Linked DNA regions of Homo sapiens: regions 1 and 2 are each linked to region 3. Evidence: fine-mapped expression QTL. A gene starts in region 3. Each other region holds a variant in brackets. All regions are shown on one strand. Distances are between the middles of the regions. Region 1 overlaps STPG1 (sperm tail PG-rich repeat containing 1). Region 2 overlaps RUNX3-AS1 (RUNX3 antisense RNA 1). Region 3 holds the start of STPG1 (sperm tail PG-rich repeat containing 1).

Evidence for each region.
Region 1: its variant is fine-mapped to the expression of STPG1 in prefrontal cortex (CommonMind, PIP 0.95).
Region 2: its variant is fine-mapped to the expression of STPG1 in hippocampus (GTEx, PIP 0.96).

Annotation. Positions count from the first base shown.
Region 1 is chr1:24,359,087-24,369,795 of GRCh38, reverse strand. STPG1 (sperm tail PG-rich repeat containing 1) reads left to right here. Exons shown (of 9, transcript NM_001199013.2): 7 at 1-122; 8 at 8,755-8,945. It also overlaps a transcript of GRHL3 not described here. Among named protein-coding and RNA genes, the nearest start is that of GRHL3-AS1, 42 kb to the right of the region's middle. RefSeq lists enhancers at 4,469-4,518, 4,283-4,577, 3,780-4,979. The variant T/C (reference allele first, on the strand shown) is at 6,206.
Region 2 is chr1:24,956,844-24,967,552 of GRCh38, reverse strand. RUNX3-AS1 (RUNX3 antisense RNA 1) reads right to left here. Exons shown (of 4, transcript NR_183341.1): 2 at 10,074-10,141; 3 at 5,312-5,506; 4 at 2,845-4,578. It also overlaps a transcript of RUNX3 not described here. Among named protein-coding and RNA genes, the nearest start is that of RUNX3-AS1, 32 kb to the right of the region's middle. RefSeq lists enhancers at 1,736-1,835, 2,196-2,305, 3,977-4,036, 4,237-4,366, 8,483-8,672 and 4 more and silencers at 2,376-2,575, 5,953-6,032. The variant C/T (reference allele first, on the strand shown) is at 4,204.
Region 3 is chr1:24,406,853-24,417,341 of GRCh38, reverse strand. STPG1 (sperm tail PG-rich repeat containing 1) reads left to right here and starts at 3,560. Exons shown (of 9, transcript NM_001199013.2): 1 at 3,560-3,668. It overlaps NIPAL3 (NIPA like domain containing 3), which reads right to left and starts at 1,540. Exons shown (of 12, transcript NM_020448.5): 1 at 1,438-1,540. RefSeq lists an enhancer at 3,945-4,064.

The DNA.
Region 1 (10,709 bases), 48 kb after region 3:
ACATTAATGTCTTGTTTTAAATCAAAAACCAACCGTGGATTAAAACTGACGTCAACAGGCCCGGGACCTGGTTATTACAACCCCAGTGATTGCACAAAAGTTCCAAAAAAGACTCTTTTCCCGTGAGTCCCAATCATTCTGGTCTTTCTTTTGAAAGGTGGTTGTGGGGAAGAAGCCCAACATAGAGAAAAGGATGGGGTGTCACTGCTTGGCAGAGCACAGTGCCGGGCCACTCTCTTCAGGGGCCCTTAGTCACACATAATGATGCTCAGTAAATGCCTGTTGAATGCCTGATACTTATTGAGCAACCACTGTGTGCCAGGAACTTAAAATTGTATTCAATTATTATTATAATCCTGTTGTAAGAATTGTTACTCTTACCCCATAGAGGAGGAAGCAAGGCTTCGGATTTGGCGGGACATTTGCCCAAGTCCACACAGCCAACTTGAGGAGCCACAGGGAATTGGCTCAGGACTAAGTCTTTCCTCATTCCCTGTGATGCTGGATTCCCCTGGTGCTGACATTGTTCTATTTTTGTAACATAAAATCTTCGCTGGAGTGGCAGGACATTCAGAAGCAGTCAAGCTCTCATAGCTTTATACCGATGGAAGTTTAAGCCCTGACTTTCGAGTTGGTGATACCTGCTGGATTTGTACTTCAGCTCTGCTGTTTTTATGCTCTGTGACCTTGGGCAGAGTTCTAACCTCTCTGAGCCTCCATGCCCTCATCTGTAAGGTGGGAATAATTCCTGCCTCGTAGGATTTTGCTTTCAGAATTAAAAATACATGTTTGGCTGGGCGCAGCAGCTTGCGCCTGTAATCCCAGCACTTTGGGAGGCCGAGGTGGGCGAATCACTTGAGATCAGGTGTTCGAGACCAGTCTGGCCAACATGGTGAAACCCTGTCTCTACTAAAAATACAAAAATTATCCAGGCATGATGGTGCACGCCTGTAATCCTAGCTACTCGGGAGGCTGAGGCAGGAGAATCACTTGGACCTGTGAGGCCCAGATTGTGGTGAGCCGAGATTGCGCCACTGCACTCCAGCCTGGGTGACAGAGTGAGACCCTGTCTCAAAAAACAAAAAAAGTAAATAAAATATATGTTTGGCATTGGCATTGCAGCTGGTGACTCAAAATTAACACAGATTTTTAAAAGTAAATACAGGGATTTTTGTTACCCTGTTTAATATCCTACACATTTTATATTACTCTCACCTAAGAGGCTCAAATACTCACAGAGCTTATTTATTTCTCGAATGGTTCTAGAACTTCTGGAACTAACTGCAGTTAGGGTTAGTCCTCCTGTTACCATCTCAGCTCTCACCCATGCGTAGCCCCTCCAGACAGAGCTGGCCACTGGGAGGGCTGGCCAGGTGGGACCAACAATATATCCTCTTGGGCCCCTCCAGAGAGATCAGGCAGGTGTTAGGAGCCATAGCCACAGTGGGTCAGAAGTCCAGGCAACCCAGGGAGGCTGCCAACATTGGGCATAGTCTGATCATCAGCCTAGGGCAAGGGGACCACAGTTAGAGAGAGGTGCAAGTTGTGAATCTGCCAAGTCGAACTTAAGATCTGGAGAGGGGATTGAGACCTCAGCTGGAATCCACCAGAGGAGTCCCTTCTGCCCTCCAGGTCTAGGGCTCTGCAGGCTGGCCTTGTACAGGCTGTAGGGCTAGGGGCTGGGGCAGGCCAGTCTCCAGGAACAGCTCTGTCTCTGGAAAGTCTCTCTCCAGAGACCTCCCGCCTCCAGGCTGGCATGCGGCATCTCTACAAGTAACTATTCCCTTACTCTGCCAGAGAAAGAGTGGTCAAGAGGACAGGTGTTGGAGTTGGCCGACCAGAGTATGAATCCCAGCTCTGTACCTTCCAGAGACTTCTCCTCTCTGAGCCTCAGTTTTATGTTATTAAGTAGAGATAAGGATCTTATCTCGTAGGGATTCCATGAAGATTCGATGAGAAGATGTTGGAAAATAGCTATTACCGGTTGGGCATGGTGACTCACGCCTGTAATCCCAGCATTTTGGGAGCCCAAGGCAGATGGATCACTTGAGGCTAGGAGTTTGAGACCAGTCTGGCCAACATGGCAAAACCCCATCTCTACTAAAAATACAAAGCTGGGCGTGGTGGAGGGCGCCTGTAATCCCAGCTACTCAGGAGGCTGAGGCAGGAGAATTGCTTGAACCGGGGAGGTGGAGGTTGCAGTGAGCCGAGATCATGCCACTGCACTCCAGCCTGGGTGACAGAGCAAGACTTGGTCTCAAAAAGAAAGAAAATAGCTATTACCCTTATAATGATAGCTGTGGTTATTGTATATCCTATAGACCTACTAGGCTATATTATACAATACAGCTGTTATTTGGCATGGCAGCTCAAGCCCCCAGCCCAAATTTGGAAGCTTCTTCAAGGAAAATGGTGAAATAACATAAGAGTGGAGGATGCTCAATTTTTAACTGCTTTATCTGGAGAAATATCTTCTGGCTTTTGCTCAAGTTTGAACAGGTGGTTTGAGATCGTTCTTATTTTATGGCGTTTGCATTTGTCAGTCAGCAGACTCTATAGATTTCTAGTTCTGTACTGGAGGCTCAGGTGAACAGGACACCACGCCTCCAGCCAACCTCATCTGGGAACAGCCTCGAAGCCAGGTGGAGGAGCCTGCAGCAAAATGCCGGGTTAGGTGGCCCCAGGGGTGTATGGCCATGTACAACCCATGGGGCCGTCTTCCCACTGGGCAGTGCAGCGGGACTGCGTGTCTGGGGCTTCTAGGGCTCGCTGGCTCTCTGTCAATGCTTCACAAATAAAAGGTCTTTGGTTAATAAGTCTGAGAAGCACTGCATCGTAACCCTCTGCCCCTGAGAACATCGCAGTCTGCACAGGCATCTTAAAGGCTCTGAGAAGGCCTGCAGTAAAGGAACCTATTAACCCGCTGTCTCCTAAACTTGGGTTCACCCTGATGAGGGGATGGTGCCCCAGGCTCTATAGCACGACATTTGTATAGCTGGCTCTGTGGTCTGGGGCTGCTCTGGGCACCTCTCTGGGTCTTCATTTCTCTATAAGCGAAAGAAGGGTGTCTGCATTTCTGACACATCAGAATCCCAGGTTTGCTCACCATGGACTCAGGAGAGCACACAGGGGACAACGAACGTGGAGCCAGCCTGGACCCACAGAGGAGGTCCAGATTATGTATTTTAAAATTAACGTGGGAAAGATGAAGCTAAGAAATTTATCATTTTATTTGGAAAGCAAGAAGATAAGACTGGTAGGCTTTGGACTATTCTAAAAAAAACATTTATCTGTTCCCGATGAATGATGAAGAAAATGATGTAATGAAAAGAAAAGACAGCTGAATATCAGAGTGTTGAGGAAATATCCAAAATCCAGTTTCTCAAATTCCAGTTCTGTTTTCTCCTGTGTCCCTGGAGGGAAGAGAGGGACAGGAGCTACACGGGTTCCTGAGGTCAGTAGACCCCTGAGGTGACCCCATCTGCATGCACCTTCCCTTAGGACTTTGTCCACATCAGAACTAATCCTCTTTAGCTCTCCACGGCTACGTGGAGCGGCGGTGACTTGCCGCCATGTTTCTTTCTCGGGAACACACGCGTGCCATGCAGGGGGAGACCTGCCCTCATCTGTCTTGGGTTGGAGTTGATGGGCTTCCCATTCTTGGGCAGAGTTACAGCTACAGAAATGCTTTTCTGGATCTGCTTTCTTCAGGGTGCAGGAAGCATCAGTGCAGATATGAATTCTCCCTGGAGTTTTTAGTCTCATGTTACTGGCCAAAAAATGTAAAGCCCAGCCGTGAGAGGATGGCTGGATATGACCAAAGCTCAGGAGGCCACCATTAGGGCAGGGAACGGCTGATCACGTCCCCTGAAGAGGCCATGGAGGCAGCGTGGGCAGTGGATTGATTAGCGTAGGCCCCAAAGTCAGTACCATGGAACCTCCACTTTCCCTGCTCACCAGCCCTGTGGGCCTGGGGGAAGGGAGGTCACTTAACTCCCAGTGGGTTCAAAGTCATCCTTGGTGAACCAGGATAAGAACACCTCATAATGTGGTTGTAAGGATAAAAGGAGATAACCCACAAAATTCACATGGTAACTTGTATTTTTATCAAAGCAGGTGAGCGGGTCCTCTGTGTCTTCCTAGGGTTTCTAGTGTGGCCCCGCAGGGCGGATGCTGTGCTTGGGGCTGGCTGTTTGTTAGCACTGGCATTTCTGAGCTCCTTAGCTAAAGGTCATGCCATCGGGTGTTCCTTGGCCATGGCCACCTTGCTGACTCAAAGCTAAGAGGACTTCTCAGCTTCCAGGGTGTCTTCAGAAGCAAAGTGAAGTATCAGCCAAGGTTTCGCTTCTGAGGTCTTCAATATCCGTCACAGTGATGACTCAATCACTTAGGGTGAGTCAGGGTGAGAGTTTTGGAGATCAAAATAGTTCCTCCTAGGCAATGCCTTCCAACTCATGCTCCCCAGCAAGGAGGTGCAACACTCAGGGCCATTTTTCTAACCCTTGATCTGCTTCCTGGAGTTTTAAGCCACTGGATTTGCACAGACACGCTGTCTTGTCACAGCTAGAGCTGAAAAATCAAGCCCCGTTGGCCCCACTCCAATTTTGGTAATTAGATTGGACCCACCCTAACTTCCCCTGGGATTTTCAATTAGATATGGGATGCTTCTTCCCAAGCAGCTGTAATCTGTCACCCGCTACCCTGTTAAACAGATACTGCATTCCACCCCAGAGGCAATCGGCTGCCCTTTAATGATGAGAAAAATTGCCCCTTTATCCCTCCCAACCCTGGGAATCCCTGAGGCGAGTGAATGTGTGCCTGGGAGTGTCTGGAGGGTCTCAGATGCTTTCCCCAAGTGGCCTGCTGAGTCCTCTAAGACATTCATTATTCTTAGGTGATTTGCAAACAGCTCACATTGGAAGCTGCAAACACACTTAATCCAGTTGTGGCCAACTCAGAGCCTTTGATAGATGTTTTCTTTCCACGGGGCAGGGCCAGGTTGGCTTTTATAACTGAGCAATGAGGCTCATAAAAGCCCTGGTCACAATGCACTGTGGGCTGCCCTGGGTTTGATCCAGCCTGACCTTTGTGATTTGTCAGCCCCACCTCGACATGGAGGGACCAGCCCTGGATGAGGATGAAACTGTCATGTGGGCCTCAGATGCCTGGGCTCCTTTACATGCTGCCAGCCCTCTGCTTTTCTCTGCACTTCAGCAAATGTTCCCGGGATAGGGCTAGGGGCCTCAAAGCTGAGGAAGACACAATACCTTCCCTTAAAGAGCTAGGCAAGTAAAAGCCATAGAAAATGCAACATTTTAAATGCAAAGTAATAGCCAGAATGTATTCAGGGGCCACATACTCTGAGCTGAGAGCTCTCAGATGTGACCTGCCGTCGTCCTTCCACCTCTCCTCCAGGTGGGTGTGTCATTCCGAGTTTACAGTGAAGTGCAGGCTGTTGACGGTGGTGGGGCTGGGATTTGAATCCAGGTCCCTCTGCCTCCAAAATCCATCTCCAAAACCCATGTTCCTCACTTGAGTCACAGGATGGGAACATTCAAGACAGTCAGGTGGGGGGTGGCGAGACAGGCGTGGGTGGAGGAGAGAAGTTTCCCTGGAAGAAAGTGAGAACGTCAAGAATTGAATTCGAGTTTGCAGGGAAAGTTGGTGTTTCTCACAGAAGGAACAGCAGGGACAAAGGCATGGAGTTGCTGAACTGTGTTGTGTTGGGTGTTTCTGGAAGGTAAAACGGAAGCAGCAGGACATGGGAGATTAGGCTGGATTGAGAGGCCATAAATAGATCTTGCCTTTAAGTTTTCATCAGGGTTTGTAAGTGGGGAGTATCAGAAGCAAGTGAACAACCCAGGAAATCACTGGTGAATGGAGGGTTGAAGGCAGTCTAGGTGCTCAGCGTCTGTCTCCTTGTGTCCCAATTCCTGCCATAACAGCTACAGCTTTCCCCATTCCATGCTTTTGCTCCTGCTGTTCCCTCTGCTGGAAATGCTCTTCCCCACCTGAAGATTTTCTGGATTTCTGGATGGATTTCTGGATTCATCTTGTTGGAATTAATGTCCCTCTGTCTCTGTCTCTTTCTCTCTGCTTTCAATGCAGTTTTTTATTTTAACCTCTATTCGAACAGATTTCATGTTTTTAAACAAATGTTACAAGTAAAGCACAATCTTCCTAACAATCTGGGTAGTAGGTATTA[T/C]TTCCACTGTTTTACAGATGAGGAAATTGAGGCTTAAGGAGGTTAAGAGCCTTTTCTAAGAACACATAGCTGTTGAACGGGGAAGTGGGGATTCAAACCCAGCTCTGTCTGAGTGCAAAGCCTGTACTGCCTGAAGTTGTCACCAGTCATGGCTGTTGCTGGCAGCGGATTGTCAAGCCCTTAAGGACACTCAAGTCCGTGTCTTAGTACAGAACTGCCTGGATTCCCAAGCATGCCTGGCCCAGAATCCCACACATGGCTGGTGCTCATGAAAGATCCATAGTGCTAGGCTGAAGGTTCTGAGCCTCTCCTGGGCATACTGAAGGAGTGGAAGACAAGAAACCTCTCTAACCCATCTTGCCAAGAACACTGGTGAGTCATTAACTCAGCGTGCTCCAGCCTTCTGCAGGCTGTCCTTGGCTAAGAAAGCAGACACCTCATGGTTTTCTCAAAGAACAGGGTGGGAATCTTGGGCTTGGAGTGACCCAGACCAGTGATGGGGTGACCTCATATAATGGTTGATTTGTTCCAGCTGTAATTTCCAGGAATCAAACCTGTCTCTCCATGATGCCAGCCACAAACTCATCAAATGTCTGGAGGTGTTTTGAAGGGGGAGCCACAAGCCAGAACAAGGAGAAGCCAGCTTTTATTTATAAGGGGAGAGGTTGTTGATTACACCCTGTAACCAGTTCTTCCATGCAGATTCATAGCAAACAGGGAGGCAGCATGTCCCCCCTTTCCCTGTGGGTACCTTTGTTCTAAATATAAGCATCCACGCCAGCTGCTCCTCCACCACAAGATGTGAGCCCAAGCACATTTATGATGGCTTTCAGTGTCCTCTCTGACCAGGGGGGTGTCCCCTGCCTCAGCATGACTCTGGGGTGGAAGGGCCCTGTCAGTCTTTTACGAGGCTCAGTTGCCTGTCTGTCACCAAGCAGCACACATTGATGCTGACACAGGGATCATCAGAAGAATAACAACTACCTTTATTGAGCACCTACTATGTGCTGGTGCTCTACTAGGTGCTTTACATACCTTTTCTCTGTTCATTGTAACTCCTTTATAAAGTTAGTGTCATTGTTCCTTGCAATGCTGTGTATACTGACGCTAAGCTATAGAGAAATCAGGGGCCTTGTCTTACAGCCAGTAAGTGGCATGACTAGAATTCAGCCTCAGGTTTGTGTGTGACCCTTAAACTCAGTCCCCTCCGCCATCATGCTTTCTCCATATTGCTAGGTGCCAAACACTTGAGTTCTATGCCAGCATTCCTACAAAGGTGCCTATAACTGGATCGGTTACTTTGTCTCTCCGGACACCAACATTTTTAGAAAACTAAGGAGGTTGAAGAAGACATCACTTGGGTCCCCTCAAGCTCTCTGTGTTTAAGAAGTTGTTGGCTAAAGTGCAGTAGTGCCCCAGTGGCCAGGAATCCCAAGTCCCCTCCTTTGCTTGGATGGGCTGGCTCCCTTGGTCATTGAGTGCTGGGGGAAGCTGGGGAAGGCTCCCTTGGCCATTCAGTGCGGAGAACCTCCTCTCCCCTTTTGGTGAGAAGCCTTTTAGAAGAAGCCTTGGGTGTGAGCCAGAAGGAGGCGGCCCTTCTATTACATGGTTGGGAGAGTAGCATGATTCCTGTAACAAGCGCAGAAGTCTCTGACAACCCAGTGGAACTTTGAATCAAGGCCTGATGAAAGGTCACAGCAGGAAGGGACCTCAGAGGTCATCTTGTCCAACCCCTTCCTTTTACAGATGGGGAAACTGAGGCCCAGAATGAGTTAGTGACCAAGCTAGGACTCAAGTACAGGTCCGGTCTTTCATTTCATGTCTCAATATCAGAGATAAAAGATAGACTCCCTTTCTGGAAGGAGGGGAAGACAGACTTGAAAACAATGGCGGTGTGAGTGGTAAAGGGTTATGCAGAGTCTCTTGATTTCCAGCCCGGTGCTTTTCCACTCCTGCCTCCTGCCTCCCCAGGATGATATTTAGTAGGATTCTGGAATGTCAATGTTACAGTGGCCTCTAAAGACCTGCTGGTCTTGGGATGGCAAATCTGTGGAATGTGGGATGCTTCTTTCTCTTCCCTGACCATGGCAGGCATCACAAGTGGGTCACTAAGGCCTCTTCCCATTGAGTCCATATGAGGCCTCAGTTTTTTTCACAGAACTCCAGCCAGGCACTACCAATCAATCAGAGTTGGCACATGAGATATACACGGCCTGCCATTTCTGGTTAGCTCCACATCTCCAGCAATGCACACTGAGCTCTCACTGTGTGCCAGGCCTATCCTGAGTACTGTGTTTTAGGTACGTCATCTCATTTATCCTGACAACCCTGACCTCAAAGTAGGTCCCATCATGATTGCCATGTGCAGATGAAGAAACAGATCCAGGGGTCCCCAGCTCACTACCAGTGGAGCTAGGGCTCTGCCCCAGTGCCGTGACCAGTCCTCTTCCAGACAGCTTGCTGCTGTGCAGGTCTTGGCTGTGTCTAGAAACTGTGCCTTCCCCACTAGACTGCCTTAGTGACATCTTCCCGTTTTATCTTTCCCAAAGGAAAAACCCCATCCTGAACTTCTCTGCTCAGCCTTCGCCTCTGCCTCCGAAGCCACCTTTCCCAGGTCCTGGTCAGTATGAGATCGTGGACTACTTAGGCCCCCGCAAGCATTTCATCTCTAGTGCATCATTCGTGTCCAATACCAGCCGGTGGACAGCGGCGCCGCCTCAGCCAGGCCTGCCTGGCCCAGGTCAGAGGATTGTTTTAAATGATTGTAAAAACCAAATCTTCTGGAACTGTTTGTCATTCTTGGGTCATCAAATGCCATTGATTTATAGGTTGTTTCCCAAATAGGTTACAGGGATGAGGGTAGATTTGGAAGCATTATCAGTTCACATTTTCACAGTACAAAAATGTTTTGTTTTTTAAGGTGAAAGGGCTCTTAGAGATGGTCCAGGCCAGGGATTCATACTGAGGACCATGAACATCTAAAAGATTCAAAGATAGTCTTGAAGGGGTCTGTGACTCTGCAGTTGGCTGAAGAATTGGCACATATAGACATTATTTTCTGGGAAAGGAGGCCATAGCTTTTGTCAGAGTGTCAGAAAAGTTCTTTTTCTTTATTATTATTAATTTTTTTTACTTTTATTTTTTTGAGACGGAGTCTCGCTGTATCGCCCAGGCTGGAGTGCAGTAGTGCGGTCTTGGCTCACAACTTCCGCCTCCCAGGTTCAGGCAATTCTCATGCCTCAGCCTCCCAAGTAGCTGGAATTACAGGTACATGCCACCACACCCAGCTACTTTTTGTATTTTTAGCAGAGACAGACAGGGGTTCGCTATGTTGGCTAGGCTGGTCTCGAACTCCTGACCTCAACTGGTCTGCCCGTCTTGGCCTCCCAGAGTGCTGGGATTACAGGCGTGAGCCACTGTGCCCAGCCAGAAAAGTTCTTTTTCTTAAAAATATTTAAACTACTGGTCTAGTGTGGCCAGGTTATTTTACAGCTGAGGAAGCCCTGGAGAGCAGGTGGGCCACAGGTCCGCAGCGAGTTCGTGGCGGGCAGTGCCAGGTGTTTCCCCATTTATGCCTTGTTTGTTCATGAAATTAACCAGGGACTGTCCAACGGAGCAGCTCTTTTGAACCTTCTAGCGCCACACTCTTTTTACAGGCAAGCATAAGTAGGGATCCCCTGTTACATCTGGGATCTACCTGGGAGCTAATATCATGAGGGACTCAGTCCAGTGGGCGGCCTCTGTGCTTCCTGACCTATTTGTAGCTCTCTATAGAGCGCTTTCGCTATTACCACAGCCTGACCATGGCCAAAGCTGGTGGCACTGGGGACTGACATGTGTGGCAGGTGGCATGGGAGGATGAAGGCAGAGCTGTGATGACTGCCAGCTTGGTTACACCCAGCCTTTCTGTGAGTGTTGACGATGCTCCCGTGCGAGGGAGCCAAGATGACCTGGGCCCCAGGTTTGCCCCCAGAGGCCACAGTCAGGTGGGGAGATGCCGTCAGCTCCATACTCACAGGTGAGACTAACATAAGGCAGACTGGGCCAGGAGAAGGTCATTCTCCTAGCTTTGGCCTTGCAAATGTGGTGATAATCACACCAGCAAGGCTGTAGAGGTTTGATCTGGGGCTCATCTAGTCAGTCGAGGAGAACTCAGCATTGCAAACATGCAAATGCTCCATACAAGGGGTGAGCTCCAGAGAGGGTAGGGCATAGGCAGGGATCCTGCTTTGACCCTGCTCTACCACATCCTCTGGAAGCATTGCCCGAATGACTTTTCCATGCCGTATGTGGTGCTAGGCACCTGGCACACAGAGACAGGCAGCTCCTGCCGCTCTGATCACCCATGCCAAGGTGGGCTTCTGCGAGGGGTTTCCTGGGCACGTGCACGTGCCGGCATCTGCCTGCTCAGCTTCCAGTAAACTCAGGTATACCTGGACTACCATGGGCTCCCCTGAGCGGCTTTCCAAGTATAGGAACAGAGAGGCTGTGCACGGGACCCTCA
Region 2 (10,709 bases), 550 kb before region 3:
TCCCTTGGCAGCTTCCCCAGGGCTGTTTAAAGCTTAGCACATGCTTATGAGGGGGCATGTAGAGATGATAAGCCCCTTAGCGGCAAGGACCAAGCTTGGCTCCAATTCACCACATTGCCCCGAGAATGCATTGAACTACTCGGTGCACAGATGGATCACTGGGCCGTGCACAGCCTCTTGAATTCCCTCCCCTTCCTGGGCCTGGACTCAGGTTCCCAGGGAGGGGGAAGCCCCTCAGGGTGATCAAGTTATAGGGGCTTGGGGGGGGCCCACTCTTAGGTGTGGAAAAAACAGCAAAGCACGTAGGGTGGTATGTTCAAAACTGGAGGCGGTGTTGGTGGAATGGAAACAGCTCCTGGGCTGGGAAGCAGGGGCTTGGGTTCCACTGACTCATTGGGTGAACTTGGATGAGTCTCTGCTCCTCTGGGGGCCGCAGTTTCGGCTTCTGTATAAGGGGGGGTCTTCCCAGCTGTGTCATTCTCCAATCTATTTCACAGATGGCTGACTCCAAAAGGCATCAAATTCAACCAGGAGGTCAAGGCCCCTTGGCAGGTCCCCCCTGTGCCATTGACCCCTGAGGGTCCCATGCAGGCTGGCCAGCTGATGAGTTTACAACACAGGGTGGGGGCGGGGCAGCCTCTCCCCCTGCATGACTGTCATAGCTCCTTACTTGAGCTGACTCATAACGGAGCCCAAATTGCGTCATGGAGGCTCAGCCAAGGAAACCAATGTTTATGATGCCCTCACCCCGTGCCTGTCCCTTTGAAGAAGGTGTTATCCCCATTTTACAGGGAAGAAAACTGAGGCCCAGAGAAAGGAAGTGACTTTCCCCAGGGTCTGGCTGCTCAGATTCAGCAGAGCTGGGGCTGGAAGCCAAATCTGACTCTAGAGCTCTGTGGCTGTCACCATAAACCTGCTTCCTCTCTGGCCAAATTAGAACTCTTGTCCCCACCACCCCCACCCTCAGCACCAATTGACCCACCATTCAGGGACAGAAGACTGAATCTTCATGAGGCTTGAGATGAGGCTGAGTGAGCGTTTCCAAGGCCATCTTCTGCACATGTGCCTTGGGCAGAAACAAGTCTCTTTGGGACCTTGGACCAGCCCATCCTCTTCCAGGGATGTCCCCACCCCATCCTTGTTGGCCTACAGAGGCTACTGTGAGTCAGAGGCTGGTGCTAGGTTCTAGCCCCAAGCCTGGGGTCCCTGGGAGAGGCCAGGGGTTGGTGGCCAGGCTGCAGAGGGACTTTCTGAAGTCTTCATTTAAAGGGCATGGAAGGGCACTCTGGTGTCATGCCCAAGGTCGGGGCTGGTGAGTCAGAGGCTGAAGTTCCAATCCCATTCCAGAATACCACATGACCTTAGACAAGCTGGCGTCACCACCCTGGGCCTCGCAGCCTGGCCTGTGAAATGGGAGAGTAGAGCTTGCAAGGGAAATGGTAAAAGCCGCCACCTTTCCCCCACTCTCCACCCTCTCTCCCATCCTGACATGACTTTGGGGAACATGCAAGTATAGGGTTCAATCGTCTTCATGACTTTTCTACTTTTGAGCCTCTCTGGGCCTTGACTCCTCAAGGACATGAAGACACAAAGGGCGCTTCTGGTGAGGGGAACAGCATGAGCGAAGGCCCGGAGGCAGGGAAGCTCCCGAGCATCATGCTGGGGCAGAGACCCCCAAGGGGATGCGCAGGTGGCAACAAGAGGAGTAAAGGGCCCTGAATGACATGCTGGGGACTCAGCCCCCAGCCCTGCAGAGGGCCCCCCAGTGCGGGCAGGCCACCAGGTTTCCACAGGAAGGCCCTTCTCGGTGGGCAGGCCGAGGCCAGGCGTGAGTGCTGGCAATGCCACTTCATGTGTTTCCCGTTGTACTTAGTCCCAACTCCCATAAAAGCCCCAGAGGTGCCACCCAGCCACACATGTGGACACCTCTCCCTGGCAACAATGGTGGTGGACAATGGCAGGGAGTCAGCCGCAGCCCAGGGGCGAGGTGGCATGGCAGGGAGCTCTCCGGCCGCTGGTGGATCCGGGCTCTGGGCACTCGGTGAGGGGCCCGCGGGGCTCCTAGCCCGCCCAGGCCAATGCTGGCCTTAATTAAGAAGGAGTCTCCCACCCAGGAGCCAAACCACCCTCCTGGCCACGCCCACTGCAACCGCTTTCAGTTCTGTTTCTTGGGCCGCGTGCTGAGGCCAGCCTCACAAATAAAAGCCATCACTTTTCTATTTCTCTCTCTCTCTCTCTTTCTTTTTTTTTTTTTTCTTTTCCAAAAAGAGAGGCAGCCACAAGATCTTCTAAAAGGCCGTGACATCACGGCCCAGGTGACCGCGGCCCAGCCAATGAGCCAAGGCCGCGAGCAGGCTTCTCGCATCCTGTGAGCTGAGGTTGGGTTGACACTGGGAAGGCCTGGTCCCTCAACCACAGAACCACAAGGCCAGGCCCTTGCCGCCTCCAGGGCCCTGCGCGGGAGCTGGTTGGCTCCTGGTGCTCCCCACCCCCGGCCGCCCTCGTACCCACCAGAGCCTGGGCTCTGTCAAGGGTAAGCCTCATTCATTCATTCCCCGTGGCACTGGAGGCGGCCCACTCTGCTCTGTCAGCTTCGGAGCTCCTCCACCCTGGCTGCCGAAAGCCCCTTCCCGCCATCTAATGATACACTCTGCATACGCTTCTGTTGAGAATTTGTGGCTAGACATTCCTGTGGGACCGGGAATCCAAATTCTTGGGTACAAACAGAAACTTACTTTCCTTGGGGATTTTTTTCTCTCTCTCACTCACACACACTCTCGCGTTCTTTCCTTTTTTCTTTTTCGTAGCAGCAGGGGGGAAAAAAGAGACAAAAACAAAACAAAAAACAACAAAAAGCAACACCCCCCCCTTTTATTTTCAAAAGTAGCTAGAGGAAAAAAAAATAAAACAACAGCCAACCAAGTGAATCCCAACCCAACCCCCTGAAGGGCTGAAAATTCTCGCCTTCTTCAGAGCGGGGCATGGCATCGAACAGCATCTTCGACTCCTTCCCGACCTACTCGCCGACCTTCATCCGCGGTGAGTAACAATAGCCCAGGGCCCTGGGTGGGGAGCTGTGGCCAGGCCCCGGACCACGTCCCTCCACTGACCGCCCTGGCTGCCCTCAAGCGCACAGCCTGTCCGCCTAAATCCGCTGGCCTCTGAAAGCCTGAGGTGGGAAGAGGGGTTGGTGGTCTCTGTGGTCTCTTGGCGTGGAACATCGCTGTGGCACTTTCATCCTCCGCTGGTGGGGACAGTAAGCCGTGGGGGCGATGGATACTCCAAGACCTCAAGACCTCAAAGGGCAGCCCTCAGAGGGGCCAAGGGAAACTCTCAGGGACCCTCGGCTTGCTGCTTCACTAACAGGGCCCCAGGGCCTGCAGCCCCAGCCCCTGTCCTGCCTGGGACTCCCCACCTGGGCTCAGGAGGTCACTGCTGGCAACTTCTGGGGAGAGCTGTGGGATGCAGGGGTCTTCCTGGAGACCACCGCCAACATTTTGTGTGTAACTCCTGGGGTATCAGAAGCAGAGGGAGGAGAAGGAAGCCACAGGCTTTTGTGGAAAACTGCACAGAGCTGGGCTGCACTGAAGCTGGACCTGCACGGGGCAGGGGGACAGACCTCGAGAAAGTTCGTGGATTTGGCCACGGAAGAGGAGAAAGTGTTTCTGGGCAGCTTTTGCCTTTTTTGGTGGCTGCAGGGATGCAGAGTTCTGGGTTGTGTCTCCCAGCAAGGATAGGGGGTCTGGGATCCCCGACCTGGAGCCTCTAATGGGGCTGGGACTCATGGGGAGACTTCTCCTGCCTCTGTCTGGCATTTAGGGCTGATGCACCCTGGCCTCAGACACCCCCTGCTGCCTTCCTCCTCCCTAGCAGGAGCCCAGATGGGGCTGTGACACCTGAGACTGGGGATCAAGAGTCCCTGAGCTCAAGTCCCACGGCTCAGTGGCTTCCTTGCTGAGAGACCTTAGGAGGGGAGTTACTTAACCTCTCTGTGCCCCAAATAGAGTCCCCTCTGCTTGTGGAATTCTCATTGTCTGAGCCTGGGGGTGGACCATGTATAAGGGCAGTGCCTCTGGATGGTTCCAGAACAGAGAGGCTGCATGAGATCTAGAACTTCAGGGTTGGGGGCTGGTGCTGCCTTTCCTCAGCCGAGGCAGTCAGCAGAGATGCAGAGGTGGGTCTGCCTGCCTGCCTACCCTCCAG[C/T]CCATTGGCCTGCCCTGCCGCTGGCTGACCGAGTGATTCAGGGCTGCTGCCTGGGTGGCCGGCTCGGGGCAGGGACCCAGACACATTTGGGTGTTTGAGTCCTCAGGCTTCTGGGAAGGCTTGTCTGAGAGCGGGGCCTGTTCTTCTTCCCTGGTGAGGCCAAGGAAGGCTGTGCTGCTGCAGATGGGGACTGAGTCGGGGAGTGAAGGGGGCCTGCTGTCCCCTGAAATGGGGGCACTCCCATCAAACCTAGCTGTAGCTGATGATGAGCGGCAGCCCCAGGTCTGAGAGCTGAGAGCTGTGGCTGCTTCCTTGGAGTTGCTGCTATTATAACGTTGTTCCCTTTGTAGTCCTCGGAGCTAATTAAAGGCAGTTCTGTGGCAAGAAAATAAGAGTTTATAAAATCCATTTGCCGGGTCTTTGTAATCTGTATTTCTCCTTCCGTGCGCAAGATGGAGAAATGTAGGGTTTAAAACAAAGGAACCTTGGGAGACAGGGCTAGAGCCCCGGTCGGCCTGGGCTGGGTCCTGATCCTCGGAGCCTGGGAGGTGGCTGGCAGTAGCACAAAGGGCACAAAGGGAGAGGTGGCTTTGGCCCAACATGTCATGTATGCGCCCAGAGACAGGAGGCCGCTGGGCAGAGCGGGCTGATCCTGGCCAGCAGTGGCACAGAAGGCGCCTCATAGGCTAGGGTCTGTGGAGATGTTTGGATCTGGGGTCTGTGGCCCGAGGGCCTTCCCTCCACTTTTGTGGAGACCTGTCTCCCCTCTTCAGCCTTCTCTCTCCTGTTCATTTCTGCTCACGACGTGCTCGCCATGGGGGCCTGTCTCCCAAATCCCATCCCTGGAGGCTTACAGGGCTCCAGCTGCCAATTCCTTCCTCAAAGAGACGCAGCCCCAGGGTCCCATTTGCAGGGTGCCAACCCCACGCTGCCCCCTACAGGGTCCCTAACCCACCGACCCTTGGCAGTCTCAGGGAACCTTCAGGTTCCTCCTCGGAGTTGCGTTTTTAAACGCGTAAGACAAAATCCAAAGGATTACAAAGGAAAAGAAATCGATGGAAATACCATTGTCAAACTCAGAAAGCAAGCTGGTGACATATTGACTCACGTTTTCCATTTGTTGAACTCCATTTGTCTGTGCCTCTTCAAGAACTCACTGAGTGACAAGACCCCGCGGTGGGCCATGCAGTTGTGATGAGCATGAACAATATTTCAGGTCATCCCTGACCCCGCTGTGATACCAGAGAACACCTGTGATTTCCACTGGTGGAAAATCGCCATGGAATATGATGCTAAATTTCAGCTAGAGGCCAGGGAAAGGAAAGACACGGTTATCTCCAGCCCAGTGTCACAGACCCCCTAAATTATACGCAAGACAAAAACTCCAGGTCCATCCGGGTCTCGGGTTCTCAGAATCTTACTCGGGCTGTTCTCTCGTCCACAGGCTTTTACCAGAAGGGGAAGGGTCTCCCTGTGCCCCCCACTGCCTCCTCTTCCTCCTACCTGTGTCTTCCAAATGCCATCCCATCTCAGTCCCTGAGCAAAGTGTGATGGAGCCAGCAGGTTTTCTGAAATCACCGCCCCTAGAGAGTTTTAAACACTGGATTCCCAGTTCCTACCTCAGGCTGTGGAGGATTCTCCATTCCTACCTCAGACTGCGGAATCAGAATCTCTAGGGTTTGGGCCTGGGCAGGTGTGGTTTTGCAAATCCCCTAAAGCGATTCTGATGTGCCTCTCAGGCAGGCTTGGGGACTGCTGCCAGGGAAGCCCAGTCCCCTACCTGCCTCTGCCGCCTGTGTGCTGTGAGACTGTGTCTGAGTCACTTGACATCTCTGGATCCGTGTTCTCTCATGAGTAAAAGGGCACGAGTGAGTTGCATTTGGTGCCTCCTATGTGGGCTTCTCTGTCTCCCCCACCTGACAACCCAGGGTGGTCCCTAGAATTATCACCGAGCTCCTACTACCTCAGGGTCCCCATAGACCAACGGAAGATGACTTCCCTTTTGTCTTCACTGGCAAAAACAGGCTGAGAATGAAGCATCCCATCCATGCCTCTGCCTTCAGGCACCTGTACTCAGCCAGTGCCACAGCCTGTGCAGGGGCCTTCAAGGCAGCAAGGGAGAGATCCAGACCCCTGGAGAGTCCGACTGCTTGTGCATGACATTCCCACGGCTCCCACCCAGCCCTCCCCTCTCAGTTTCTCTGACTTTGAGCTAAGGGATCAGAAACTCCCCTCAGTTCACTGTGGAGAGAAGGGGTGTGGGAAAAGGGTGGAGAGGCATTTGGTTCCCATCCTGCAGTAGAGGCGTGAGCAGGAGGTGAGAAGAGGGCAACGCCTACCCTCAGGGCTGGTGCATGGATGGTGGAATTCTAGAAGCTGGAATGGAAGGTGTGAGAGGGCACAGGGGCCCCCTGGGGTCTACCCCCAGGCAGGACAAGGGGGATTTATTCTCCCTGTGTGACAAATGGGGAAGCTGAGACCTAAGAGCTGTGATCCAGACACTCTGTGTAACTAAGGACAAGTCCCTTCCTCTCTCTGGGCCTCAGTTTCCCCGTCTGACAATTATGGGCCAATGGCCCTGAGGACCCCTTGCCCATGCACGGTTCCACTGGGGGCCAGAACCTTCATTCTGAATCTGCCTCATGAGGCCCTCCTCTGCACCCCCTGGGGCACCCCCCCCTCACACCAGGTCACCTTTGCTGAACCCTCACTTGTACCCCCACAGGCAAACACTCACCAGGGACACTGGCAGTGGGTGCCCCTCCAGGGAGGGAAGCCAAGGAAATGGGCCCAAACTGCCACATGTAGGCTTTAAGGGGGCTCTGGGGCGGCGGGGGGGCAAACGCGTTCATCTGTTTAGTCAGTCATTTCCCAAAAACTTATCGAGGTGTAGAGTATCGAGATTCCAGCTTGGGCTTTAGAGCCAGGCTCTCCAGGTTCAAGTCCTGACTCTGCCCTCTGCCGTCACCTGCATGAGTTACTTCACTTCTCTGTCTCTGGTTTCCTCATCTGTAGGGGTTACACCAACCTTGCAGAGCTATGGAGAGAATTAAAGGAGCATGATGCCTGGCACAGAGTAGTTGCTCAATAAGCATTTTCCATTTGATGAACACCATGAGCATGGCCTTGTACTGGGAGCCCGGGGGAAACTGGGTCAGGATCTCCATCCTAAGAGCTCACCATCTGGTGTAGAAAAAGATGGGTCAACAGAAAATTGCCCTGGGGCGTGACAAAGGTTTTTTGGGAGAAGAACCAGGGCTGTGAGTTCAAAGAGGGGTACTAGCCCAGCCTTGGGAAAGAGAGAACAAGTCCTCTGGAGGAGTGACTTGGAAACTGGGTCCCTAAGGGTAAAGAGGTAACAAAGACAGGGAAAGGATGTTCCAGGCAGAAGGAACGTCCTGGGCAAAGGTGTGGAAGCAGGAAAGTATGAGCTGGCTCGGGAGCCACAGGGAGGGCTGGGAGCGTGGTGTGGGTCTGGCCGAGGTCCCCCTAGCAGTGGTTGGAGTTGGCCGGCAGCTCCTCCCCTGAAGATGCCTGGGAGAAATGGAAAGTGGACTCTTGGGTATGAGGCAGGCCTGTGTGGAGGCAGGGGGTGGACAAAATGGCCCTGGGCAGGTCTGGCCGAGATGGTCTGACTCAGAGGTCACCGGACAGGGAGGAGGCTGCCCAGACCAGAGAGGTCAGTCACTGTATCCTTTCCGAAGGTCCAGGAAGTTCCAATAACAGGGGACTCTCTGTTTTAGCACTGAAAGCTCCACGTCCCAGGAAACCCCTTCATCCCAGGCAACCCCTGATGGCTGGTCACCCTGAGCACATGTGTCCATGGGGCCTCCCCCTCCCCGCCATCCCTGGGAGAGGAACAGACTGACCGCCAGCCCTTCCGTGCCCACTATGGCGCTTGCCTGGCGCCACGTCTGCTAGGTCCCTTTGATGGCGGCTTCTGAGGCTGCCCTGCACACACCCGTCTCCCCAGACCACCCTGCCTGTCCAAAGTGCCCCCCAGGCTGGAAAAGCATTCCTAGGAGCCCCCCACTGCCCACAGGGTCTAGGCAGGCATGAGCCGACCCCACACAGCGGGACTGTGTGTCCAGGCCTCACCGCACCCACTCTGGCGGGCTGGAGGCCCCCAGCAGCCCCACTGGTCATATAGAGGGCTCATTGACGCCTGGGCCTGGAGGTGGCCGCATCAAAGCGGAGGCTCCCTCGGTTACCTGGAGGGAGGAGGCCGGGAGACGGATAAGCAGAGCCTGAAAACCTGACCTTCCAGCGGGCTGTGAGAGGCAGGAGGAGAGTGGCAGCCTCTGACCCCGGCCTTGCCACTGAGCCAGTCCGGACTCCTCCATGGGTGGGGAAACAGGCCTGGGCTCTGGGTTCAGTGGGGCAGCCCCAACACCAGCTCTTATTGCCATCTCCTGGGGATGCCTTATCTGCAGACTCTTCCTCAAATCTGCCACCCAGAGTGTGCCCCCACCCCCCGTAGTTGGGGAATCTCACCCAATCTTCCAGACTGAACCCAAACACCCCCTCTGCTAGGAGTCAGTGCTGGGACACCTGCAGCCACTGGGGAGCCCTGTCCTCCTGAGCTTCAGTCCGTGGGCCTGCCCTGAGACTCAGCGAGTAGTTCCCTACCTTGCTTAGTGGAAGTAAAGAGAAGGAAGGAAGGAAGGGAGGGGTGGAGGGAAGAAAGATTGCCTTTAGCCCTCAGTGGATCTACAGCCCAGGCCTTTGCCATCTGCCCTAAAATAGCACCTCCTGAAGCCCCTGGACACAGTGGGGATGGGAATCTCGGGCCTAGGGCTGGGAGTGGGACTCTGGTCTTGCTTTGAGAAGTCACAAGAACAAGGAACAGTGAATCAGTCCAGGAGCATATCAGAGCCCGGAGGCAGAGAGTTCCCCTCCTCATTTCATACATGACGAAACTGAGGTCTAAAGAGGTGTGTGGTCTTGTAAAACATTGAATTCAGCAGCAGGAAAACTGACTTTCCTTGCCTCCCTGGGGTCCAATCATCCGCCTTGCACACAGTTTAGGAGTCAGAACAATCTAGGCTTAAACTGCATGGTAGCTGGGTGACCTGACATGTTAATTCACCTCTTAAGGTCTCAGTTTCCTCCTCTGTAAAATGGGCTAGTAACACTGACCTCAAAGGGTGGTTGGGAGGAGCAACTGTGGCCCTACCCTGAGCCCCGCATGTGGCACCTGGTACACAGGGAGCACTGGCCTGGCACAGGCCGGCCTCCTGATCGGCTCGGGCCCCTCTGCGCCAGCGTGATCCCCTGCCACTCAACAGATGTTTCCACATCTCACCCTCCTGCTCTTTCTCCAGCGCCAAGCCCTGGTTTTTTCAGGGCTAGAGAGGGCTGAGCAGGCACAAGACTAGAGGGACTGTCAGACCCCTTGTCAATGGCTCCCAGGGATAAAGGAAGGCACTCTTCGGAGAGAAAGCAATGTAAAATGCGGCTATAAGCCTCAGCTGCAGCCAGGCTCTGCCACTTCCTCGCTGTGTGGCGTTGGGAGAGGTGCCTCACCTCTCTGTGTTTCATTTTCTTACCTGTAAAATGGAGAAAATGAATAGCACCCCCTCAAGGCATGTTGGGTAGGTTTAATGAGGTAGTGTGTATCACGTGCACAGCACAGGGCCCGGCACAGACAAGCCCTCATGGAATGCCAGAAATTACTACTATTTAATGTTCCTCCTCCTCTGCAAAAGCCTTCTGTCTGACTCTAAGCAGGATGTGGAAGGTGAGAAACCCTGGCCTGTCTTCTCAAGGCCCAGCTTCATGGCCGCCCCCTTGGGGAGCCTTCCCAGCCCTTCCCTTTCTCCCCTCCAGGCGGTGGGGGTGCTCTGCCATTGCTGCCCCTCACTACTCACCCCACAGGTGTCCAAAGGGTGTTCTTGGGAGCAGGGGCAGGCTCACAGGTGATATTCAGCCCTTCTCACTGAATGGATAGAGGAAAGAAAGAAAGAATGGATGGATGGATGGATGGATGGATGGATGGATGGATGGATGGATGAACGAATGAATGGGCTGACGATTGGTCAGCCTGAGAGTTTTCCAGCTTCTCCCTCACTTCCCCCTTCACTGTCTGGCTTCTTCTTTGAAACACTTGTTGGCGCGAGCCTGAGCACTCCGGTCCAATCGGTGCAGGCAGCGTGAAGGTTTAGGTTCCTCTTTGGGGTTTTCTTTCGAGTCTGGGAAAAGTGTTTTTGGCAAAAGGTTCAGACTTACGTGTGGGCGGAAAGGGCAGACGCATATAACTTATGATTTGAAGGGTGACCAAAGTCAGCCCCCTCCAAACATCCTTCAACGTGGGACATGGTGACTGAGATTCCACCAGCACATGCAGTCCCTGTGGGGGGGAGCTTTTGTAAATGCAGGTCCCTTCCCATCATGCACACCTGAGTGTCCACAGTCTGCCTGATTCCTTGGCCTTTGTTGAGAGGAGTTAAAAGGCTGGAGCAGAGGAAACAGAGGGCATCTGGGGGACGGAACGCTTGGAGAACGCA
Region 3 (10,489 bases):
TGAAGCAGTCATGGAGTTGAGGAGCGCAAACTCCAGTGAGGTGTTTGCGGAATACCCTGTTCAGTTGCTCCCAGCTGAGATCTAGCCCAGAGCCTGACAGTGACTTCTATACATACCAACCAACTGACTAAATGAGATCTAGCCCAGAGCCTGACAGTGACTTGTATACATACCAACCGACTGACTAAATGCAGGCTGGTTAAGCACTGGGTGCACTGTGGCCCCTTCGCAGTCAAGAATGCCTTTCTAAGGCCTAATCAACCACAACTCCAGAGCTTCAACAAGCAGATATACTCAGCCCCACCCACAGGAGGTCAGAGAAAGCCAACAGACCTTAGCGACATGTCAATCAAGGGAGTGGTGGGAACCCAGGCCTCCTAACATCCTTCAGAGTAGTTTGCCCAAGTGCTTTTCTGGTTTTGCTTTTGTTTGTGGTGGTTGGCATTGCTGTGGTTTAATTTTTCTTTTAAAAAGCAGCTTCCCTCTCTGCCTCAGGAACTCGCAGGCCTCTGAAGCATCGCCTGCAAAGATTGAAGGCTCTCCCTCAGCTGGGTGGGAGTCCGGACTGAAAGCCTGGAGGAACCCTTTGCAAGCTGTACTCCCTTATAAGACACATACTTTTCACCTGGTGACTCTCTTTTCCTGATTTCGAAGCATTTCTTCAGGACCTACATATGCCCGAGAGGCAAGCAGTCACCTCTGCGTTGTCAACCACCCCACAATTAGAGCACGTGGTCACTGACCCAAGGAAGGAATGAGAATTCACTAGGTGCTCTGCTTCCATTCCCACCCCGTTTATCTCGATGACGGATTTCACCAATCCCACAGAGCACGTTTTACAAATGAGACAGCCGTGGCTCATAGCGTCTGTATTCGAATTTGCCTCTTTCTGAACAAATCAATAAAACACGCTCTTTCCCACCACCCGACGATCTGGCTTCTGGAGGTGAGCGCCAGTTCCCTGCCAAGCTTCCCGTTCCTCGGCTTTGGCTCACGAGAAGGTTACATTCTTCCGTCCCGTCCCACTGAGCTGGAAACTTACAACTCGAGGAGACAGCACCTCTGTTCCAGAAGCGGGCTTAGACCAAGAACGCCTCCCCTCATCCCACCTGCTAACTCCACCATCTGCTGCCGCCAGGAAGCCCGAGCCGCTCGGCACGAAGAGGAGAAATTCTGGCAAAGTTAACTCCATGTCACTTCCTGGTTTGGTAGAGCCTGGCATCACCTTTAGTAAGGTAGCCCATGCCCCCGCTCCTCTTGGCCTCGATGCAAAACTGGAAAGAACATTCCAAGGCAACGGGACCCAGGTTGGCGAGGCTGGTGACAGTAAGAAGGAAGGGTATGTACACTAGGGGACGTTAGGTGACTTCGCTTTTTCCAGAAAAAAACGAAGGTTAAATTCAATTCCCCTTCCTCCCGGTGTTAATCACTACTCACCGGCGGCGTCTCCTCTAAGGCCCACCTATCAAAACCTTCTGAGAAATGACTCGGACTCTTCGTGCAACCCGGAGGCACAGCCTCCTTCATCCCTTCCCAATTCAGAGCTGCCAAGATGCTGCAGTGTTTTGCTTTCAAAGGTCGCGATTTGATTTGCCAGACTGCCTGCCAGTCAGAAGTTGGCAGGCATTTCGCGCAGGCAAGTGGCTGCGAGGACGGGGAGTAGGCGGGACAGCCCCTGGCAATTGGCTGCGCTGCAAAGCTTGCTTGAAGCATAAGGGAGCGACCTGGGGCTAGAGCTTGGCGCTCACCTGGAGCGGGGACCCCCTAGCGGCCACAGGAAGAATGGTGCGGCGACTCCCCTGCCCCCTCTCCCGCTGTCCCAGAGAGCTTAGGTGGTTGCTCGCCTCCACCTGCCCGGCAGGTGGGCCTGGTTTTAGCAGCCTGCCAGGTGTCCTCCCTTCTTATCCTCATAGCCACCTTCCGGGCTTTGCTCCTGCTGTTCCCCTACCCGACGCTCTCACCAAGTATTCAAATCCAAAACGTCCTTGAAGACCCAGCGCTCCCCAGAGCCCTCGCGAGACTTGGGACCAAACATATCTCTCCTTTCCTGCCCTCCTGGAACACCTGTCGGATACCAAGCCTCCCAGCAATACTGAAGGTCCTGAAACGAGCCCAGCGCTTGGTTAATGTTTCTATAATGTACATAATTATCACGGCCATGATAATTAACATGCGCATGGAGTTTTACAGATGACAAGCTTCTCATCGCTCACACGTTGTCATATACACGCATTTGCTTTCAGATCGTCACAGCCATGAGTGAGACTTGAAGCCCGTTTTACGTATGAAGAAATGTCATTTGGGCCTAGACATCAACAATGAGAAAGAGGCAGTTCTAGTCTCAGATCGTGGGGCAGAGAAAGCTCCTTGGGAACATGGGAGAGGAACGAGTTGGTGCATTGTAGAAACTGCCCGAAGGCCAGCAGGGCTGGTGAGAGATTTTTCTGGGGGCGTGGTTGGGCCTGCGATCTGAGGGACGGGCCAGGGACAGTTTATAAATAACATATTTGGGGGCCGGCGCGGTGGCTCACACCTGTAATCTCAGGACTTTGGGAGGCCAGGAGGATCACTTAAGCCCAGGAGTTTGAGACCAGCCTGGACAATATAGTGGGACCCCATCTCTACAAAAAAATTTAAAAATTAGCCGGGCGTGGTGGCGAGCGCCCGTGGTCCCAGCTACTCAGGAGGCTGAGGCGGGAGGATCGCTTGAACTCGGGAGGCGGAGGTTGCAGCGAGTCGAGATCGCGCCACTGCACTCCAGCTGGGCGACAGAGCAAGACCCTGTCAAAAAAAAAAAAAAAAAAAAAAAAGCTTGGATTTCACCCTAAATTTAAAGGCGAGCCATTGGAGGACTTTAAGCAGGGGAGTGACAAGGTCGCTGAGACCGCCCTGCCCTGAAGCGTGTGAAGAGGGGCTCCTGGAATACTAAGTGGCTGCCCTTGTATAGTCGCCCATGTCAATTTTTTTTTTTTTCTTCTGTTAGAAACAGGGCTTGGGGCCGGGCGTGGTGGCTCACGCCTGTAATCCCAACACTTTGGGAGGCCGAGGCGGGTGGATCACCTGAGGTCAGGAGTTCGAGACCAGCCTGGCCAACGTGGTGAAACCCTGTCTCTACTAAAAATACAAAAAGAATAGCCTGGCGTGGTGGCGAGCGCCGGTAATCCCAGCTACTCAGGAGGCTGAAGCAGGAGCATCGCTTGAACCTGGAGGGCGGAGGTTGCAGTGAGCCAAGATTGCGCCACTGCACTACAGCCTGCTCGACAAAGCGAGACTCTGTCTCAAAAAAAAAAGAAACAGGGCTTGGATGAATGTTAATTCTTTTAGGTATATTCCTTGAAGCAGGATTTTTGAGTGAGCAAAATTCTGAGGCTTTTGGTTTATCACAAGATTTTTGAAGCATGGCCTAGATAAACCTCTTATTAGTTCCCCACCCCGCTACAGGCCCTGATGTAATTAACCTAAGCCCTAAAATTCGGCCGGCTTCTCTGCGGACTTTGAAACGCCTCTAATGATTGGTCAACAACTTTTCACGTTAAAGAAACAGAGGATGCCATTGGCTGGAGTTACCTCGCGGACGGCGGAAGGTGGACTCGCGAATGTTAGGCCTGTGGGTGCCATAGCGACCGGGAGGTTGGGCTGGCCAGATTCAGCTGCCGGGACCGGACCAGGTAGGAAGCAGTTCCGGCGGGGGGACCGGTCCCTGAGGTCGTGGGGAAGAGGACACGGCGCACCATGTCCTCCGCATGGGACGCCCGCGGAGACCCCCCGGCCTCCGGGTGCTTGCGGAATTCCAGGGCTGAGCTAGGTGGAGCCCCGAGGGCGGGAAGAAGCCACCATGGGAGTTGCCCCTGCGTCGGGGCGTGTCCTCGGTGTTTCCACCCGAAAAGTGGTGACAACTGGGGCTTGCCTGCTCCACCGAGCTCCTGCCAGGGGCGTGGGCGTCCGACCCTTCTGGCTCAGGCTCCGCGAGTGCGCAAAAGTTGGGAGGCTTCAGTGCCTGGCAGTGGGTGGACGCCAAAGACCTGATCTCTACTCATAGGTTCACCCCAGCTCAGGGGGTGTCCCCCAGCAAACGACTTCCCTGCTCTGGGCCTCGATTTACCCATCTGTAAAATAAAAGGGTGAGATTGGAACCTGGTGGTCACTAGCCCGCCGCTAAATTTCCTTCCAGCTCCCTGATACACTTTCTCAGCCTATGAAGACTATCGAATGGGTTATTTACCTGAGAGTGCTTTGAAAAAATGTAAGCTGCTTCCAAGATGCTTATAACTGAGTAGATAAAAATCGCCTACAGACGAAACTACTCAGGACATCCAAAAAAATTCTATCTAAAGTAACAGTATACATAGTTTAGTACATGTTTATATACCCTGTACAGTAACATGTATAATGTAAACTGTAATACTTAGCATATATAACGTTTTTTAAAAACACAAGAGATGATAAAATGAAACTGTGCCTATAGTTGTGATCATGTGAGCTGTCCTTGTAGAATCTAACTCCCGCTGGAAATATATTCTGAGCACAGCTGTACACACAATTGCTAAAAGGTGTCTACCTCTAGTATTCATTCATTCATTCATTCCACCAATATTTATGAAGAAAATACTAATTTTAAAAATTCTCAATACTATTATTATTATTTTTGTAGAGACAGGGCCTTGCTATGTTGCCCAGGGTAGTCTTGAACTTCTGTCTCAAGCCATCCTTCCCCCTCAGCCTCTCAAAGTGCTGGGATTACGGGTGTGGGCCACCATGCCTGGCCAATTGAGCAAATACTGTATGTGAGGAAATAGACTGAAGATTCAGAGTTGAACTTTCTACTGGGGAAGATCATAAACAAATAAAGTAATAAACATACAATATAATGTTGGGTAGTGAAAAGTGCTTTGAAAAAGATAAAGCAGAGTAAGGGGCTAGAGAGAGATGGGTTGGTGCTTCTTAAGAGAGGGTGGTCAGGGAAGTCATCCCTAAGAAGGTTTGAGCAGAGAGTCTCGTGAATTTTGTGACAGGACTGCAGGACGATGCCTGGGTCCGGTGAGGAAAGGAGCTCCCCATGCAGCAAGGAGATATGTGGCAAAAGCCAGGGAGGTCCCATGTGGAGAAGAAGATTAGTCTTTAGGTGGTGGGGCACGACAACTGCCTTCAAATTCTTGCAGAATAGTCATATAGAACAGTGGCTTTCAAACCTTTTGACTGTGACTCATGGTAAATGCATTTTATATTGTGACCCAGCATGCACACACGCATATGACAAACTAAAACTTCACAAAAGACTACAGACTATGACTTGCATTTTGAAAATCACCAATGTGGAAGAGAAATGAGACTTACTTTGAGTTGGTTCCAAGGGTGGGAATTAGGACGGATAGAAAAAGAAAAAAAGAGAGAGAGAATCAGCTTTGATACAGGAAGGAACTTTCTAGCAATTAGAACTGTCCAACAGTGAACTTCCCCCAGGAGTTTTTAAACTGTGTTCTGATGAAACCTAGCATTCTGTGAATATTCAAGAGAGTCAAATATTTGCCCCCACCCAGCCATCCCTTATTTGCTTTATATTTTGAAAACTATATGCAATATTGTAACTTCAGAAACCCAACCAGGTAAGGCACGGTGGCTCACTGTAATCCCAGTGCTTTGGGAAGCTGAGGTGAGAAGATCACTTGAGGCTAGGATTTCGAGACCATCCTGGGCAGCATAGGTGAGACATTGTCTTTACAAAAAATTTTAAAACTAGCCAGGTGTGGTGGCAGGTGTCTGTAGTCCTAGCTACTCTGGAGGCTGAGGTGGGAGGATCACTTGAGCCTAGGAGTTTGAGGTTGCAGTAAGCTATGATTGCACCACTGCACTCTAGCAAGTGGACGACACAGCAAGATCCTATTTCTAAAAATAATAATAACAAACCAATCATACCCACTCGGGTGCTAAATGTCAAAATTTAGCAAGTTAATATTTAGTGTGTGCTGCCTGAGAGGTTATTATAGAGGTTAAGGAGTGAGTAGAAGTCAGACTTCCTGAGTTCAAAGCCTGATTCCACTTTTCTTCTAATGTGACTTTGGGCAAGTCACTTAACCCCCCACCAAACTTAAGTTTTCTCATCTGTAAAAAGTGGGGATTATACCTCACTGGATTATTATAAAAATTGCATAAGGTATTCCATAGAAGGCATTTAGGACTGTGCAGGCTCAATAAATGATAGCTATTATTTTAAGTTGTTAATACGATATCCCTGTGCGTATATTAAAACCCTACATTAATACAAGCCTACTGCAGGATAGGCAGTGTTAACCACTTCACATGGATCAGCCTAAGAGGAAGGTACTGTTATCACTCCCAGTTTATGGAGGAGGAAATAGGCTCAGAAGTTTAAGTGACTCATCGAGAATCAGAGCTATTAAGTGGCAGGCCATAACCTTGAACCCAGGACTGGATACTCTGGACTGCTGCGCTGGCCCCCACGTAGGAATCGCTTAAACATATGTTGTTGATTCGGAAAGTGGTATATCTTCACTGCTCTTTCTTAGATTCTAGGTCCATGCCATCCTGTCATGGACAGTTATACAGGTGGACCAGTGAGGCACACCTGGGCAGTGCTCTGTTCACATCTGTCCTGCACCTGCTCTCATCCTGCCTTCACAGGTATGCAGTGAGAAGACTGGAAAGCATTATTAACAGTGTGGTCTTTTGGTGGTAGGATTGGGGATTGTTTTTTATTTGTTTGTTTGTTTGTTTTGAGACGGAGTCTCGCTCTGTTGCCCAGGCTGGAGTGCGGTGGCGCGATCTTGGCTCACTGCAATCTTCACCTCCTGGGTTCAAGCGATTCTCCTGCATCAGTCTCCTGAGTAGCTGGGACTACAGGTGCACGCCACCATGTCCAGCTAATTTTTGTATTTTTAGTAGACATGGGGTTTCACTGTGTTAGCCAGGATGGTCTGGATCTCCTGACCTCATGATCCGCCCACCTCGGCCTCGCAAAGTGCTGGGATTACAGGTGTGAGCCACAGCGCTCGGCCATGGATTGCAGATTGTTTAAAGTTTTTTTGTAATTTATCATATTTTCTTAAATGTTGACAGTGTACATACATTATTATTATAGTAGTCCTCCCTTATTCAAGGGGGATATGTTCCAAGACCACCAGTAGATGCCAGTGAAACAGTGGATAATACCCAAACTGATTACTGTCAATCAGACTGTTTCTGTTCATATCTTCCACTCACAAATTTAATGCTTTTTCCATCTTAACTAAGCACTTATCATGCTCTGTGGCAACAGCTTTTTATAGTTTGAGGTGAAGCACCAAAACTAGCACCAATTTTTTTCCCCTTTGAAATTTGATGGATAGAAGTTTTATTCTTACTGTAGATCTTAGCAACCTCAGAATACAGTTTTTTTCTTGCCTTATTAAGTCAAGAACTTTCACCTTTTCACATAAAGGAGGCACTTTACAGCTTGTCTTTGGCATGTCCAAAGTGCTGGCATCACTACTCTTGTGCTTTGGGGCCATTATTAAGTAAAGTAAGAGTTACTTGAACACAAGCACTGAGACAACGTGATGGTGGATCTGACAATCGAGATGGCTACTAAGTGACTAATGGTGGGGTAGCAAATACAGCTTGAATGTGCTGGACAAGGATGATTCACATCCCAGGTAGGGTGGAGTCAGACGATAGGAGATTTCATCACATGCCTCAGAATGGTGCATAATTTAAAGCTGATGAATTATTTATTTCTGGAATTTTCCATTTAATATTTTCAAACCACAATTGACCATGGGTAACTGAAACTGGAAAATAAAGCTACAGACAAGGGTGGACTACTGTAAAACAGGAAGCTTAATATTTTTCTAATCACTCATAATTCCAGAACACTAATACATTTTTTAATAACAGCTTTATTAAAGCTAGGGCAGTAGATGGTTCTTACTAAAATGGTATAACACTGAGGGGTGGTAAATGAATAGTGGCTGCTTTGGTTATTTTTTGAGACAGGGTCTCACTTTGTCACCCAGGCTGAAGAACAGTGGCACGAACATAGCTTACTGCAGCCTTGACCTCTTGGGCTCAAGTGATCCTCCTGCCCCAGCCCCTAAGGTAGCTGGGACTACAGGCACATGCCACCATGCCTGGTTAATTTTTATATTTTTTGTAGAGACGGACTTTCACCATGTTTCCCAGGCTGGTCATGAGCTCAAGCTATCGCCTAACCTCGGCCTCCCAAAGTGCTGGGATTACAGGAGTGACCCACCACACCCAGCCCTAGGGGCTGCTTTTATAGATACTAAAAGACCTTGTTAAGCTGGATTGGTGATTGTGCTTTGATCATTATTGATTTGTTTCTGTTATTTTGAATCTCTTAATTTCTTGAAGAATGTTGTCAATAATTCTATTAAATATCAAATTTTTAGTATAGATTGTCCACCAAAAAAAAGTTGAAAATTGCTGCTGTGAGGATTACAGAATAAAGTAAGGAAAAATACTGCATGGAAAAGGACCAGTAGAGTGTAAAATCATTTATTCAATCCTTTACTCATTAGTATATATAAATGGTATAAGTTCCTTAGGGAAAAAAATGGGCAAAATGAAACCCAAGTCTGCTAATAAAAAATAATTGCTATGGAAATTAAATTGTGCCCTTGCTATTAACAACTAAAAAGTAGTTAAATGTGTTAAACAACTCACATTGGACAACAGGCACAGTACAATAATCCCTGAAGGAAGAAAAACACGGTGAGTCCTACAATTGCCCCCATTTAGTACTGGGGTCAGTTTTTAGGCCATATTGTAGGAAATCCAAATGAATTCTAGATTTCTGAGTTGAGAAGATAAAAATAAGAATTCAGAGAGGCCAAAGAGGCTAGAATTTATAGGGAGAACCCTAAAGGAAGGAGCTGCACCAAAAATGTTCAGAAACCTGAAGAGAGGTCTCCTTAAGTTTTTGGCTGAGCAGTAATCTGCACATGCATGAGAAGAAACTAAGACTGGGGAAATACCCATCAAAAGGCCATAGGCTGAACAATTTCTGGGGCTTAAACAGAACTGGGAATGTTGCATGTTACCATAAACCAGAATGCAGAGACATGGTATTAGATAGGAATTGGGTAGAGTTCACAGAAATGTCATGCCTTAGTAGTGGGGATAAATTATTCCCAGAATAAAAGCTGCTCTGGACTTGCCATAACAAAGTTTAAAAGCTTGAAAGGGTCAGATGGATCTACAAGTTACTGAAAAGTGTGCCACATCCTTTGCAGGAATATATCAAAACCCAGCACCCAGCAATGTAAAATTCAAAATGTCCAATATCTAATACAAAATTACCAGACATGAAAAGGAAAATATGACCCATATCTGAGAGGAAAATCAACCAATAGGAACAGACTTAAAAATGACAGATTATAGAATTAGTACAAAGAAACCTTAAAGCAGCTACTATGAATCTTACAAATATTCCTAAGGATGTAAAGGAAACTGAACATGATGAGGCTAGAAATAGAAGACATAGAAAAAGAGCCCAAATGTAACCTCTAGAAAGAAAAAATACAATATTTGAAATAAGAATGCAATGGATGGGATTTGCAGCTGATGAGACTTCAGAAGATCAGTGAACTTGGCCGGGCATGGTGGCTCATGCCTGTAATCCCAGCACTTTGGGAGGCCAAGGCAGGTAGATCACAAGGTCAAGAGTTCAAGACCAGCCTGGCCAAGATGGTGAAACCCCGTGTCTACTAAAAATACAAAAATTAGCCAGGCATGGTGGCAGGCACCTGTACCCAGCTACTCGGGAGGCTGACACAGAGAATTGCTTGAAGCTGGGGGCAGAGGGTGCAGTGAGCCGAGATTGCGCCACTGCAATCCAGCCTGGGTGACAGAGCGGGACTCCGTCAAAAAAAAAAAAAAAAAATCAGTGAACTTGAAGACATGACAATATAGACTACCCAAATGAAGGACAGAGAGAAAAGAGACTTAAAAATATTGAACAGAATATCAATAACCTTTGGGAAAATATGAAATGATCTAATATAACTGTAGCCCCAGGAAAGAAGGTGGCAGAGGCAGAAAAACTATTTGAAAAAATAATGGCTGAATATTTTCCAAATTTGGTGAAAACTGTAGCCTACAGATTAAAGAAGTTCATTAAAACCCAAATATTAAAGACATAAAGAAAATTATGCCAAGGTACCATGAAAATAAAATTGCTGAGAGGCACATAGAATAGTCAAAGTAATAGAAATAGAAAGTACAATGGTGGTTGCCAGGGATTGCAGGGAAAAAGGAATGGGGAAATACTGAGGAAACACCATATTGTAGGAAATACTGGGGAAGTACCATATTGGTTAATGGGTATAGCATTTCAGTTTTTCACAATGAAAAGATTTACAGAGACGGATAGTGGTGAGGGTTGCACAACATTATGAATTTGAATTCCACTCAGCTGTGCACTTAGAAATGGTTGAGATGGCAAATTTTTATGTTATGTGTATTTTACCATAAT